Regions from separate parts of the Homo sapiens genome. Here region 2 is linked to region 1. The links come from fine-mapping of genetic effects on gene expression. Tissue or cell type: whole blood. Region 1 holds a variant in brackets; the other region holds the start of a gene. All regions are shown on one strand. Distances are from middle to middle.

What was found. PIP is the estimated chance that this variant, and not a neighbour inherited with it, causes the effect.
Region 2: CTXN2-AS1 starts here. The variant in region 1 is fine-mapped to the expression of CTXN2-AS1 in whole blood (INTERVAL, PIP above 0.99).

The regions. Positions count from the first base shown.
Region 1 is chr15:48,328,669-48,336,775 of GRCh38, reverse strand. DUT (deoxyuridine triphosphatase) reads right to left here and starts at 5,347. Exons shown (of 7, transcript NM_001025248.2): 1 at 4,981-5,347; 2 at 4,370-4,508; 3 at 2,268-2,359; 4 at 686-730. The coding sequence starts at 5,260. It overlaps DUT-AS1 (DUT antisense RNA 1), which reads left to right and starts at 4,920. Exons shown (of 3, transcript NR_186809.1): 1 at 4,920-5,213. RefSeq lists enhancers at 4,570-4,864, 4,788-5,312, 5,313-5,839 and silencers at 4,570-4,864, 4,915-5,124, 7,118-7,308. The variant A/C (reference allele first, on the strand shown) is at 3,977.
Region 2 is chr15:48,188,392-48,196,498 of GRCh38, reverse strand. It overlaps CTXN2-AS1 (CTXN2 antisense RNA 1), which reads left to right and starts at 4,790. Exons shown (of 3, transcript NR_184082.1): 1 at 4,790-4,914; 2 at 5,438-5,566; 3 at 6,990-8,107. It overlaps CTXN2 (cortexin 2), which reads right to left and starts at 4,834. Exons shown (of 2, transcript NM_001145668.2): 1 at 4,646-4,834. RefSeq lists an enhancer at 4,327-4,830.

The DNA of each region.
Region 1 (8,107 bases):
GGGGCCAAGGTATCTTGTTAAGTGAAAGATTCACTACTGATGGGATAAAGGGTCAGTATGTAAGGACCACATAAGTGGGGTCTGAATCCCAGTTGGAGCGGACCTGAAACAAGGAAACCACATCAGGAAAGTAGAAATTTCCTTACAATAAGAGGAGTAGCTCTGTATCAAGAGTAGTTAGCAGAGGACACTGAGGGTTCTTCATGAAAGGTACCACATGAGGTAGGGTTAACTTTGAGACAAACATGAGAAAGGCTTTATTATAAGGGAAACAGGTAACACAGAGGACTGTCTTAACAAATTTAGAGAAAAGTGTTTTCTCTCCTGACTTCAGGGAAAGATTTTCTTCTTAAATTTTGCTAAAGACAGATAGCTCTCTTATGAAGAAAATTCTTACAAGATAGACCTGTGTTTTCTAGAACTTTTGTTGCTTAAATAATTACTTAATTATTATATCATTAAATCTGTCATTATTAATTAGGTAATCATTATTTTAAAAATTAAGTTAGTAGTTAAACAAAATATAATTACTTAAAATAACCACAAAGCTTTTCCTCCTATTATAACAAGCTTTCCTCTAATCATTTTCTTTTCTTAAAAATAAAATCTGTCATTTGAATATTACCTTTTAAAGACAAAGTAAATACTTGCAAACATTTACAGAATAAAAAAGGAAATATATTACCTCCTACATCAATAAAGTGTTTTGCAGCCAAGCCTGACCGTGGAGCTAAAAAACAAAAAAGGAGACATTGGTTATTTTAAGGGGGAAGGGCTATATCAGAGATAACTGATGCAATTTAAGCATGTCATTCTCTTCACCTATAATATCTATATCTTCATCTTAACTTTAGCACATGGTTTTGAATTAAAGAATATATATTCATCATACTGCATTACCAAAGTTGGAAAGACTAGTTTAGAAAAATTCCACAAGGTTTTAATTCAAAACTAACTTAAACCACTCCCATGTGACTTCAGTCAGAATTTGTGGTGCTGCAGACAGGGGAGAAGGACTGCTAGAATGAGCTGAAAGGTGAGCAAGCGGGAACAACTGTAGGCTGCTCTTTCAAGAAGTTAAGCCTCAAAGGGGAAGAAAGAGAAGTATGGCCAGCAGGAACACACTACTGAGGAAGAAGACTTTGGTTTTAAGATGGGACACCACAACATGTACAATGCAGATGGGAAGGGAAAGGAAGAGGAAGGGAGAGGGAAACAAACCTAACCAAATAGTAGCAGACCATAGCCTACAACTTGGGACCCCACTATTCATGATTCAGATGCCAAAAGACATGCCTGTAGGAAACACATGAACCAGAGTAAGATAAATGGGCTAATATCAGTTAAGTAAAAATGCCAAAAACTAAGTCTCAATGATTCAATGCTAGTATACTTTTTAATCCTAAAAAATGAAAAAAATAAAAAGCTAAGGTTACACCTTATTATTGCAGACTCAAGCATCAGGCCTATAATTAATTATCCTAACTTCCAGCATTTTATTTTAGAATAATTTAAATCAGGCACTTTGTCAATAATGCTGCCTCTTTCTGTACTAACCTTTATTTCACTCCATCTCCTGCCCCTTCCCCTGAAAAAATTCTAAAAAATGGAGTCAATGATGCTCAAGAGATGAGATGAGAGCCCATCTTGTTATCTTTTAAGGGCTGAAGTACTGGCAGTTTCCTCACTCATGGCTAATAATATAGTGCCAGTCTAGCTCCTTTCCCTGGAGGAGGGCGTCACAGCTCCATTGCCTCCTTTATGTTTACTCTGAAGTTAGTCAAAAAGAACTTACGCTCTTGCAAAGAACTGTCTGGTAACAACTGATCCGCTCCAGAAAAATCAAACCTGTTGACGTGTACTCCATTTTGTCCTAGCTCCTCCCAGTGCCTCTACAACACTGAAGAGTATCCCTTACCCTAACCCCATGGCCAAACAAGAAAAGGTTAAGTAGGCTTACACATTCTGGGACCAACAGGTCAGAAGTTTTACTCTCATAATATAAAATGCCATGTTCTGAGAACAGCCTTCTAGGCCAGTGTGAGCCTAAAAGCTCCAGTGAGGAAGGAGAAAAATAAAAGGGTCAAAAAGAGGCAAAGCAGAGATGTAAATAAAGCCTTTCAAAGAGTGCATTTGCTATCACAAATGGTGCTTCTTTTAGGACACAGCCCAAGCAATATTGCCTGCTTATTACCCCAAATGAAACATGAAGAATCTATCACAAAGGAGAACTTGACAAATAGTTACCTGTTTCTTAAATGACTTACCCACTCTTCCATAACACCCAGAAGGGAGCGCTATCTGAATGTCCGTTTTCACAACAGCTTTCTCCATAGGTGGTATTGTGTAATCATAGGCACTAAGAAAATATTGAAAGAAAATAACTGCAAATCTATTTATAAAATTGTTTTTATATTTTCTTTGTGACCAAGCATACAAAATTACTTTCAGTGTATTTAATGAATTAATGCAACTTTAGTTTCTAAAATCAACCTTGCTATGATGAATTACCAATTCATCTTAAAAGTTTATGAAGAAGGTAGAGGTGGCTATTTTATTATTAAAAAGACAGCTTTAGATAAAATAATTCTCCATGAATATTTTTGGTGGTGTGAAGAGATGTCAACATTGTAAATGTTTGCCCCTGAACAAAAGTTTATTGGAAACTGAGGTACTTATCAGCGTGAAAGGGCAGAAAGGCAAACTTTCAAAAGGTGGATGCTTTACAACCATAGTTTGAAAAGGAAAAAAATGAAGAAAGAACAAAGAAAAAAGGCCAAATACTACTAATAATACTAGCTATCATTGATTAAGCCTTTACTGTGTGCCAGGAACAGTTCTAATTGGTTTACATATATTAACCCATTTTATTCTCACAATGATCTGTGTGATTAGGGAAAATATGCAGAAGGAAAGGAGAAAAACGGGTGGACAAAATAAGAGATAAAGAACTGTGTTGTATCTGTCAGGCAGGGCTTGGTAGTTTACCAAGCTTAGGCTATGAATTTCCTGGCTGAGGGAGACAGCTGATCACCGTGAACGGCCCCTGGAGATGGACCTTGCTTAGGAACAGAATTCCTCTAAAGTCCACATAGCAAATGCTGCTACTCTTGATATTACTGTGGCCCTCTCCTGGGTAGAAATTTAAGAGATTTTACAATGAGCAGAACCGGAAGTTTACTTTGGAGACCTTAATTAACTCTGGTAAAGCAGTACTACCCCTTCTTTCACTGAAATCCCTCTTTAAACAGTTAAGCCCTAATTTATTGCTGATCCATTATTTCCATGTCAATTTCAGTATACAGAAAGTCACCTGTGTTTATTAGGAGTCTACTTAAGGTATCTTAAATCAAGGACTCCCCTAGGACTCAAGAAAGTGCTCCAAAATATACTTTGGAAAGGTCTAGTCAAACTATATCACTCTACTTTTATTCATCAAAATTAAGAGACTGTAGTTTTTCCAGCTACAATTGTCCATACCTACTTTCCTTTTCCTTTTTTTTCTGTTGCTATCATCAGGCACTACTTTCTCTTCTCCTGTGCTTAGACTAATAGTTCTCATGTTTGAATTATCTGAGATACTTTAAAATAAATCCCAATGCTTGGGATTTAGTATAAAATCTCCTTCCCTCTCAGCATTACTTTTCTCCTACCTTAATGGTTCTAAGAACTGGGCACAGTAGTCAGATGAAAAAAAAAAAGCCCAAAATTCGGGATAAAAAATTATATCATCTTCAAGCCTCTGGGGAAATCAATTCAGCTCTTCACAAACTCCTGCCTGTGTAAAAAGTAACACTTATCTAGTTAAGGATTGTTGTGAGGACTAAATACAACAGCATACGGAAAGTTTTTAGTACAGGTAAAACGTGCTGTAGAGATGAAAGTGTGGTAGATTACAGGCAGCTCTGCCTTTCGTTTTCAGATGCCTTCTCAAATTCCGCCCTGGGCCGGATGAATGTATAGAAAATAACTTTTT[A/C]AGGCAGATGCATCTTCGTTCATCCTTCTTAGGTATTTTCACGCTCACATCTAGGCTCTCACCTTGGTTTTTCTATTGAGCACAGCATCACCCTCGGGCCACTCGAAAGCCACCATGGGCCTTCCTCTCTATCTTCTATTTAGGAAGGGCACAATAAACGTTGCAAAGTAACGCCTTGCTAGACACCGTATAGCTATTTTACTTATTCTGCAGTCTTTGCCCAAATCTCTATTTAATTTATGCCAAAGATGAAAGCTAAAATTTTAAACACGAAAAAGGCAGAAATCCTATTTATAGCTAGTGTGTTCCTGTGATCTCTCCGGTGACTGTTTCTAGCTGTGGCAGCGGACGGCCGGCCCTTCCCAGCCTCCTCGCCGGCAGGTCCCCGCTCACCTGTACAGGTCGTAGCCCGCGGCGCGCGCGGAGCCCCGGGTGGGGGCCGTGGCGTGCTCGGAGAGCCGGGCAAAGCGGAGCTGCATGCCGCCCACCTCCGCAGGCCGGGCCCGCTTACTGGGTGAAATGGCGGGTGTCTCTTCAGAGCAGGGCATGGCAGAGCCAGAAGGCGAGCGAGGAGACCACCGGGGGAAGAGGAGAGCGCACGATGAGCGTCGCCGCAGGGAGCGCGCCAAAACCGAAATTTCCCGCCAGCCCCGCCCCACCCACCGCCCCTCCCCGGGACGAGTCCACAGTTCTGGCTGAGAGGGGAGGCGGGATTCACATTTTGGGTTTGAAGCCCTTCTCGGAAAGCAGGTTTGGGATGGGAAACTACTGGGTCCCAGTCAACTTTCCACATTCAGCGCGTGGGGCCAACTTTGAAGGGGAGCTTCTAGGGCGTCGCCCTCACACACTAGAAAGCCGCCCCCTCGCCAGGGGACCCTAATGGACCACCCCACCCCCCCCGCCCCCCGCGCGCAGAAGGACCGCTCGCCACCCTACTTCCCCCACAGCCTCAAGCCGCGTGGATTCCTTCCAGACGGCCGGAGCCCCTCCCCCGCCTTTCCTACCCGGCCCCGGCGCCGGGCTTCCCCCCGCCTTAGGAAGCTCGCCCTTCCAGCCAGCGGCCCCGACTGTACTGGCTCCGCGGCAGCCTTGGCTCAGGCGGCCAGCGCTGGACAGCGGCCGGGGAATCCCGTGCTGCGCGGCGCGGCCGAGGGGCGGGCCTGGCCCGGAGAGTACCGCGGCTTCGGCCCTCTGCCGTGCGCCTCGCGCGTTTTGCATCGCTGAGCGAAGCAGAGACGTAAGGAAATGGTAGCAGAGCGCGGGGCGAGGGCAGAGGGGAGTCATTTCCCCCAGAGTTTGGGCTGGTTGGGTCCTCGGCACCTCCGGACGTGCGCCAGGCTTCCACCCTGAAGACGCGCCCGTCCTGGGAACATGACCTCGGAAGCAGTCGCAGCCGCCGCCGGACGAGGGGCGTGGAGAGGCGGTGCCCCGGCAGCCCAGGGATGGCGCAGGCCCTGGGGCCCCAGGAAGACGGCGCCGTTGGCGTCTTGAGTCTTGCTGCCGCCTCTGGCTGCCTAGCCCTCTTGCTTTCGCTCTTCTTGTTTGCTCTGGCCCCCATTTTTCCGAGAGTGTACGCCAGGCCCGGGCCCTGCTCCTGGACTGATTTACCTGGGGCGGCACCGCCCGCAGCCATGACTCCCGGGCTCTGAGTTTAGCGGCGCCCTAAGCGCCGGAACCGCATCTCGGCGCCGGTGACAGTTATTGCGCCCGGGGCCGCTCCCCAAGCTGTGGGCAAGACACCGCGCCCGATTTCCTTTCAGCACCGAGTGTCAGACGTTGTAGTGTTTATTCGACCGGAGGCAGGGAGGGCGCTACTATCCTATCACAGGTTTGGGATAACCCAACAGAAACGCAGTGGGAACCCCTTGGCTAGGAGTCGAACAAGGATCCCGGGTCGTGGTAGTATAGTTTACAGTGGGGGATAAAGCAGTAACTTTCTAGATAGTTGTTAATAATTTTTTCTGAGCTGCAAGTATCTCCTTATTTCTCACAAAAATCTGCGAGCTGAATTGAATGGTTTTGAATTTTCAAAATTAAAAAAGCTGTGGGGCAGTTTTAGAGTATTATTGGGGAAATTTTACATTCGTTGCTATGCCTTTCCATACAGGCCCCCCCTTTTCGGTCTCCTTAACTGGTTCGTCTTCGTAGTTGGAATTCCTTTGCATGAGGCTATGGAATATACACTACCTTCTCTGGACGTTAACTATTAGCTACAGCTTGAGGACTCCCAAATTTATGCCTTTAGCAACACGATCCGAGCCCTGCAACTTTTCGACCTCATTTTGAGCCAACATTATTTTGCTCCCTTATTTTGTTGAAGTACTTTCTCCAGTTATTTACTTAAAATGTTCACATGAGAGACATACTATTTGATTCCTTGCTTGTACTAAGATGTAATGATTGTAACGACTTCATTTTCCTAGACCCAGATAAAAGTCTCGCTTCATTCATGAAACTTTTTACAATCAGTAGTGACCTCTGCCCCATCTTATCTCTTTTAACACTTACTATATCATTCATTAGTCGTTAGCCATATACTTTCATTGTGTAATCTTCTGATGTATATGCATTTTATCTCTCACATGAATTAGAGTCATAAACTTTTATGAATTCTTCAAAGCACTTACTTCAGTGTTTACACAAAAGTTACTTGTTTGGCTTATTACAATATCTAACACCAAGCAGGTTACCTTCTATTTTTTGTTGTTAATCTGTATACATAAAGTGTTTATTGTTACTTTTCAGCTGAGTTTATTTTAGACTAAAAGAGAAACGGCCATAATCTAACTGGCAAAAAGTAATAGGATTCTGAGCCAGTAAGCATTTAATAGAACGTTCTTTATGACAATAGAAATATAACTTGTTATGAACATACACCTTAAATGCAAGATACTGCAGTTAAGAACTAAACATGTTTCAACCATAATTTACTTCATAGTTTTTGTTTTTTTTTTTGAGACAGAGCCTTGCTGGAGTGCAATGGCTCGATCTCGGCTCACCCCAACCTCCTCCCAGGTTCAAGCAATTCTCCTCCTCAGCCTTCCAAGTAGCTGGAATTACAGGCATGCGCCACCACGCCTGGCTAATTTTGTATTTTTAGTAGAGATGGGGTTTCTCCATGTTGGTCAGGCTGGTCTCGAACTCCCGACCTCAGGTGATCCGCCCACCTCGGCCTCCCAAAGTGCTGGGATTACAGGCGTGAGCCACCGCACCCTGCCCTTCATGGTGTTTTCTTTATCAGACTATAGTTATCCTATCAGTCATGCTGATTAATTCAATTACCTAAGTCTAGTGCCAATTTGAACCTTCTGAAAATGCAAGTCAGTACTTGAAAAGCATGGTTGTTTTTCCTATCTTTGCCATTTTGGGGATTTCTCTCTCATTTTAACAAAGATACACATTGTTACTACTTTATGTCAGGTGTATTCTAAGTGCTTTAAAAAATATTAACTCGAGGCCAGGCGTGGTGGCTCACACCTATAATCCCAGCACTTTGGGAGGCTGAGGCGGGCGGATCACCTGAGGTCGGGAGTTCGAGACCAGCCTGACCAACATGGAGAAACCCCGTCTCTACTAAAACTACAAAATTAGCCGCATGTGATGGCACATTCATGTAATCCCAGCTACTCGGGAGGCTGAGGCAGGAGAATCGCTTGAACTCGGGAGGCGGAAGTTGCGGTGAGCTGAGATTGCGCCATTGCACTCCAGCCTGGGCAACAAGAGCAAAACGACGTCGCAAAAAAAAAAAAAAAAAAAAAATTGGCTGGGTGCAGTGGCTCACACCTGTAATCCCAGCACTTTGGGAGGTCAAGGTGGGAGGATTGCTTCAGCTCAGGAGTTCGAGACCAGCCTGGGCAACGTAGGCAGACCCCATCTCTACAAAACATATACAAAATTAGCCAGGCATGGTGGGTGGCAGGCACATGTAGCCCTAGCTACTCAGGAGGCAGAGGTGGGAGGATCACTTGAGCACAGGAGTTGGGAGGCTGCAGACAGTTATTATCATGCCACTGCATTCCAGTCTGGGCAACAGAGTGAGACCCTGTCTCAAAAAAAAAAACTCGTTTAATCATGACAACTAGAGGAAACAAATTCTTTATCCCCATTTTACAGATGAGGATACCAAAGCAC
Region 2 (8,107 bases), 140 kb after region 1:
CTATAATCATGGACGTGGGTCTCCAGTGTGGTATTACAAAGGTTTCACTTTAATCTACGCATGTTTTCAGTGTTTTTGAACAGTGACTAAGTTGAAGATATTGAAGTGAAGCTTATTAAATTTGACAAAGTGTGGCTGAAATATGATAGCACATGGAAAAAACACTCAAGACAATTCTGATGCCTAGAATTCTGGGTTGAAGCTAGAACATAAAATTTAATAGAAACACTTCTAAAGCCCTTTGTTTAAGTGGGAGGGAAGGAGATGCACCAAATCCAAACAGGGGAGATAATGACTTGGCAATTCATGTAAAATAAATCTGTAAGCTGCAATTAGTCAAGTTAGCCTGAGCCAAAGATATGAGGTGGTGGCTTATAAAAGCAAATGTCTTAAATTGAATAGGGGTGCAAATGATAGAAAGTAATAACATTATTATAATGTGTCAGGCCACATATAAAGTAACACTGCATATATTCACTATACTTTCATTGAAACATATTTATTGGGTTGCTAGTATGCTCTAGTAGACATGCACTCCTCTACTTAAAGGGATTCCAACTAGTAAGGGAGAAGAGCCATGTACACACAAGGAAAGAAACAACAACATAGGCTTCTACAAAAGCAATAAAAAAGGAAGAGGAAGCCAACTTGTATTTAAAATCTACTGTGTATCAAATACTGCTTTACATATTTTATTTTATTCCCACAACACCCACATAGTGTTGATACTATCTTCAACATCTTGGTGAAAAAAAAGAAGATCCAAAAAGGATAAACAAGTTTAGATGAAATCAAGATATCACCCATTGAGGGATCAGGAAAGTTTTTCTTGCAAGAGATTGTATTTGAACTGAGTCTTGAGAGACAGAATGATTCAAATCTGTGAAGAAGAAAAAAGCATGACAATAAATATGAAGGCAGAAAAATACTGGATTTTTTCAGAGCACAGTGAGCAATTTGGTACAGGCAAGGGGGAGTATGGGAAACAAAGCGTTGGAAAGGTAGGTTGGAGCCAAATTGTGAAATATGTTGACTGTCAGGCTAAGAGTTTGAAATCTATTTGCTTAAAGGCTGAGTGGCTTGATGATGAGACTGAAATAGACATAATTTTGAGGGAGAGAGCATCACGGGAAAGAAATGGTTCAGGTGAGAAGCAATGAGGGTCTCCACTAGGGAGTAGATGTATGAAAGAGGGTAGAGGTTGGAAAGATATTTAGAAAAGTAGGAGGGATAGGATTTGGAAAGTAGTGGGCCCAAGGAGAGAGAGGCATCAAAGATGACTCTACACTATTAAGCTCGGACAAGTGTAAATATAGTGTTTTTATTAATCAAAACAAAGAAAATAAGAGCAAAGCATAGACTTAAAAAGTAAATGACAAGTTTATTTCTGGACTTGGTGAATTTGTGGTACTCATGTGTGGCACTTAGTAGGCACTCAATTGTCAGCTTTCAATAAATTTATCCAGATCATTTTGTCTAGCATAAAATTTTTGATGGGGAGAATATTTTAAGGTATTGTTGTCAAATAACGTTTGTGTAGAAGACTTTATACAGGATGGAGAGAGCCCAGTACATAGAAATATTTGCAGATCAAAACTTAAAGAGAAGAAAAGAATTGTTGAGTTTTGCCTAGGAAAGGGAAGACCAAGAAGGACAATAGGTAGACTCAAATATTTGAAATATTATCTTGTAGGAAGCCAGATGGACTTGTTCTAGATTGATCCAGAGAGCAATTTTACTGTAATTCCATTAAAGTCTATTTTCTGTTACCAGAAAAGATTAAAGATGGAAGAAGCCTAGCAAGGAACTCCAAGGAATGCCTCTCCTACAAGGAGGATCTCCTAGTGGAGTTATATAAGATGAATCATGAGTAAATCTGTAGCAGAAAGTTCACCTATAATAAAGGAGGCTAGGGCTTCTAGAATGAGGCATTAGCAAACAGTGTCAAATTCTGCAGCGGTGATGGAAACTAAGCACTGGAAAACAGGGTCTTATGGTTGGCATTCAGAATTATTTCATCATTATAAAAATTTAGTTGAGAGTCTAGGAGGGACACTAAATTGAATTGGATTTAGGAGTGAGGGGTAATGAGAAAATGGAGTCAGGTGGTAAATAAACTTGACAGAAAATAAGTTTTACTTAGTCGGTACAGAAGGTTAAATCATATGATGAATCACTTTCAATAATGAAGACATGACTGCATATTCAGTTTTTAAAGGAAGAGCTCCATAAATTTACCTGGATTCAAAGAACTGTAAAATTTCCATTTTTAACAAAAAAAAAATGGGTTGAGAAAGAACAAATGTTTTATTAATATCTTAAAAGAGAAAACAGGCTTTTATATTTATCATAAAATATACTTTATACTAAAGATGAAAACAAAATACAGGTCAAGGAGAGCAACTGAAAAAGTAATATTCAAAGGCTGATTAAAAATTTGTCCATTGCTGCAGGCTGTGCCTACACAAGCAAATAGAAGTAAAAAGTTAAGCAATTGCCTAACAATGTGTTCAGCAAATAGATGGTTTTAGTAATTTAAACCATATATATAGCAGTTGAAATATCAGTATTTCAGGCCTAAATTTTTCAAACAATTGGCCAAACTTTCCATTTTACTTGCTCTGTGAAATGAAGAACTTGTCTCATTTCAACAACAAATCCAAAGTTTTTGAGGATATACTGTTAAGTGTGCCAAGTCCTGCTTTTCTACTGATATAGAGCATAATATGATATGAAAATATTGTTAATAACAAAATATTATTAAAAACAAAAGTCCCCAGTTATAAAACTGATTCATTCACAATTACTAAGGTGTTCAAAATACTCAACAGTTATAGATAAAATATGCATTTTCACTTTCTCTAAAAGCTGGAAGAGCTATTCACAACAGACACTGTAATGCCTAGCTCCAGAGAAGCATCATTTTAATATCCTGTTTATTGGGAAATAGAAAAAAAAAGAAATCTGAGAAAATTTAGATTAAGTTACAAAACCATATATTAAAAAATCCATATAAAAATAGTTAAGAAAAAATGAACTTTCAAAAATAAGTAGAATGTAAAATTGGGTAGTGGTAAAAGTTATTTGAAATATATTATACCACAAAATTGGGTAAAATAAACAATGCACAGTTTAAATATCAGGATCAATATATATAATGATTAAAATATTTAAGTGTCTTTTAATACTACTGATGCAAATGATAAAATATTGTCTTGAGCCATATTCACTGGAATAAATGGTTAGGTACTTTGGCAATGAGTAACTTGGTTGAAAGTACATTTCCTTCATGGCAATTGTCAGGCACCAAGATTTCTAAGTACTGATGAGTCATAAGATTGGGCCAGGGGTGTTCCTGTAGATATCAAATAGCCCAAATCTCATGAAGTTGCTTTGTAATTGGCAACTAGTAAGTAAAAAACAAAGTCTTCCTATGATCAGTACTTACAAATCATATCTCCGTAAGCAGTTAAGCAAAGATGATAGTATTTTTATACCTGATATGCAGCCTTTCATATTCATGAATATTGTTAGTGATGTTTATGTCTTCTGTGAAATAACCTTACTAGAGATATAAAAATATACCTTTCAGATAAAATCATTTAATCATGCAACAATGCACAATTACAGAAACTAATGTTAAAAAGTGTGTACCCATTAAAGAAAGAACCTCCTGTGTTTTATTTTAATCAACAGGTTTTTCCTCTTGTTTATTTCTCTAGTAATGGTATTCCAAACAATAAACCTGAAATAATAACTATTAGAGTGGAATATGATGTTCTAGGTAGAAAGTATTTTAGCACTGGTCATTAGATATAATAATCTCTACTGCTAATGATGACATTCATAATTTCATGAAATAAGACATATAAGAAAACCCAAGCTTAAAAAATAATGAACCATTCCATACATATACACACTCCACACAAAATATAAAGATTATATCCCAGTAAAAGAGAGAAAAGAAGCATTATTGAAACCACATCTGCACAGAGGTAGTTAATCATTAAGAATCGAATGTGTTGGAATAAAAGGAAAACCTTAAATTACAAACCTAGATGTCTTCATCATGGTGAAATGCATAAATTTCAGGGCTTTCCAGAGATCCCAGACCTTAGGATCTGCCAGAATCCACCCCTAAACCCTCAGATTTCAACCTTAAGAGAATTTCTCTCTTAAGAGAATCTTTGGATGGCTCAAGGACTCTGACACTCAATCCTTCCAACGCACTGGGAAACCTGGTCTGAAAATTCTCCAGATATCTCATTAAAGAAACCTAGACCATCATCATCATTCTGCGTTGTTTGTTTCCAGGTCTCTTTCTACGCACTAAACCGAAGAAGCATGGAAACTTCCTACAAAACATTATGGGAGAAGCATCAGCAATCTGCACGTACACAACACTTTTCCCCCGCCTGGCAGCCGCATCAGCAGTGGCGCTAGCATTAGGGGTGCTGTTTCTCCTTTAGAATTTGAACTTATCAGACCTACTGGCTCCTCCACCCACCGCCCCACCCCCCGCTCTTTTGCTTCAGAAATACAAGAGAATGAGGACATGCTTCTCATCTGGACCTGCATTTGGAACGCTGTCAGTTAATGCGGAGGGAAGGGGGAGAAAGTTACTTCGCAGACAGCGATGTCTCACCTTCCATGCTTGTTGCCATGGAGATGAAGTCCAGCCAGTAGACTTAAGTGTTGGCACGTTTGTCTGTGTTCGCTGATCGGTTCAGTAACAAATGTAGAAGGCGTGTTCTGGAACCTGCGTAGAGTCACAGGGCCCTGGTTAGCGCTTTCCTGGCCTAGAAGTGTAAATGTCTGTGTCTGTTGGTGAGACAGAGGACGTGGGCGCCCGCCGAAGTACGTGTGCGCGCGCGCGTTTGCAGGAAAACGTGCATGGATTTCTTCGGTGTGGCAGTGTGTAAATATTTGCGCTCGCGTGTGTCTGTGGCAGCATCTGTGTGTGTATGTGAGACTGAAAGGAGGTGGGAGATGAGGAGGGGAAGGGAATCAGCTCCAGCAGCAACAGGCTCTATTCTTCAGTTCTGCTAAAAGAAAGAGGAAGAGAGGAAGAAAAAAATAGACACTCCTTTTTTTTCTCACGACACACCCTGAAGGTTAGCAATTAGATTTCATCATTATCTTTGTTTACTAAGGCAGTGAGGGTTTAATTGATTTACTGCTGAAATCCTTGTTTTGCTCTCTTTGCTGCATTCCTGGCTGTGCTGCGGGCATTTTGCTGTGCTTTGGTGACAGCCGTTTTCAGTAGAACAGTAGGCACTAAATTCTTACACGTTTCTTCTTATCCGGTAAGGAAAATTCAGGAGTGAAAGGTGTATTGATTTAACTGGAGACTGAATGTGTCGTTTGGAGTTCTTTTCCTCTACTCTTTCCCTTCTCTCTTCCACACAAACACAACTGAATCCCCTTCCGTTTCTAGGAGAAGGCGCCTAGGCGCTGTCCGTAGTGCTGAAATGGTGCGTGGTGAGACCTGTCTCCCCAACACAAGCTAGAAGACAACAAAATAGCAGCCAGGAAACGCTCTGATAAAGCTCTAGATAGCTGCCAGGTACGTTTTCTAAACAGTGTTGAATATGTAGATTCTAAACCTAACCGACGTTGAAAGCAAGGTAAAGCAAAGCAAAGCAAAGGAAAACAAAAAAACAACAACAGAAACCTTGCTCTTTATCCTTATTTTAGGGGTCTGGCCGTTTCAACAAACTCAGTTACAGGGTTCCCAATTCTATTTATGTTTTGCGACTCTATCCAGAACCTACAAGTTGCAAGCACTTTTAGATTCCCTACAATCTTAATTATTCACCTTATAACTACTGGACTGTGAGTCGTTGGGGGAAATGTAGATACAGAATTGGGACACTCATCTAAAGAAAATACTTTGAAAACGTAATGTAACTGCAACTAGATTCAATAACAAAGTGAAGACAAACTTCATGATTATTTAGAGTATTTACTGATTTAGGAAATGTAATGGTCTTACAAAAAAATGGGCAATGTATAACTGAGAGTTCATATAAGACCACATTTTTTAAAAGTTGTTTTTTGATTTTAAACTATTAAGATGTCCTAAAATGTAGGTGAACTAACTGCCCTCTATGAAAGACTGAAAGACATATCTTATTCTAGGGACATTTCCATGGCCATGGTTTTATTGACCCTTTTTAAACTTGCCAAGGGCCACATTCTTTATTAGCACTCTGGGCTGGAACAGTGCTTCTTGAAGTATAACATGCATATGAATCTTCAACGATCTTGCTAAAATGCAGACTCTGATTCAGTAGGTGTGGGGTTGGGTCTCAGATTGTGCTTTTCTGACAATTTCCTAGGTGATGCCAGAGATTACTAGTTTTGGGACCAATTAAAGTAGCAAGATGCAGCCAGGAGTGGTGGCTTATGCCTGTAATCCCAGCACTTTGGGAGGCCGAGGTAGGAGGATCACCTGAGGTGAGGAGTTTGAGACCAGCCTGACCAACATGGCGAAACCCTGTCTCTACTAAAAATACAAAAATTAGCTGGGTGTGGTGGTGGGTGCCTGTAATCCCAGCTACTCAGGAGACTGAGGCAGGAGAATCACTTGAACTCAGGAGGCGGACATTGCAGTGAGCTGAGATTGTGCCACTGCACTCCAGCCTGGGTGACAGAGCGAGACATTGTCTCAAAATAAATAAATAAATAAAAATAAAGTAGCAAGATGCTAGAGATATTGAATTCTGGCAATGCAGTCAGTCATAGATTGTGGGAAAGGAGATCATTTTATTCCATCTATTATTCTATGTATGTTTCCAAACTGTTACAAAAATAATTTATTCAAAATTAGTTCAGAGACTAATCATGTAAACATTTTGTCTGTACAGTATGAACAATTTTTTATGAATTTGATTCCTTTGATTTTGATTTTGACATTGTCTGGACCAGTGGTATAGTTGAGTCTGTATTTCCATACTATGATCTATAACCATTCATTCTCTTTGCAGGCCGAGCTCAAGGGAGCAGAACTAAGTTACATGATTCTGCTGCGGATGTATAAGCACCACTCCAATAATTTATTATCACGGTTGGAGACTTTGACTTGTCACTTTATGACTTGAAATATGGCTCCATGGTAAATGCCCATAAAGCTGATTTTTAAAATCTGGATATTACAGTTCTAATTCTCACTTAGTTTAAAAGGTAGAATAGGCTTCTTGTTTCATAGATCATTTGTGTGAATGTTGATTTGTTATGTCATTGACATCATACACACATGCTTACATTTTGAAGGTTGCTAGCGTTTCCCATTAATGCTTCTGAATTGATGCCAAAGGAAAGCATTGATTATAAATTAGGTTCCTTGGTATTAGTTGGTGCATGACCCTGACCCTTTTCAAGCTATATGAAAGGTAATGATGCTCTCAAAAGCCTGCAAAATGGCTTATTCAGGAAAGCATAATGGATTAAAAATCCATTAGGTTCCACTTTCTTTGCTAGATGCTGAGATACAAAGATAAATGAGATTTGGTCTCTGCCCTCGAGGAGATACGTGGCAAAATAATATGGTAAGTTCTACAAAGTTCTATACAAACACAGATTAATATGCTATTCATGTTTTATTAGCCATTGCCAAAGAAGGGATGAAGAACTGCAAAAAGATAAAACACAGAATACTTGTACTTCAGGTCCTTGCCAATATCTACTGCCCAACTTTTACAAAAAAAATTGCTGAAAGGCATGAAATATATGAATGCCTTTCTAAAGCACATGTGGATAATCTATACTTCTGGAGCATCTATGATTTATTTTCAGAACAATCCAAGTTATTAGAAAGGTAAATATGTTGGTGACATTGTTTAGAAGTTCCTCAAGCAGAATTGCCTTTACTATGCTTTGACATTATGCTCTCAGCTTATATACAGTAATTCTATGTGAAACAGTAGCCAGCTTACACAACCTGCTCTATATCTACTACAGAGCTGTTACTAAAGTGTTGGTCAACATATAACTTACTATTTCTTATATAAAGATGCCCAAGAAATTTAGATTTCATAGATATATCCCCAAAAGCATTTCTTTCAATACCAGTTTAATGAATTGAACTTTCATACCTCACTTAAAT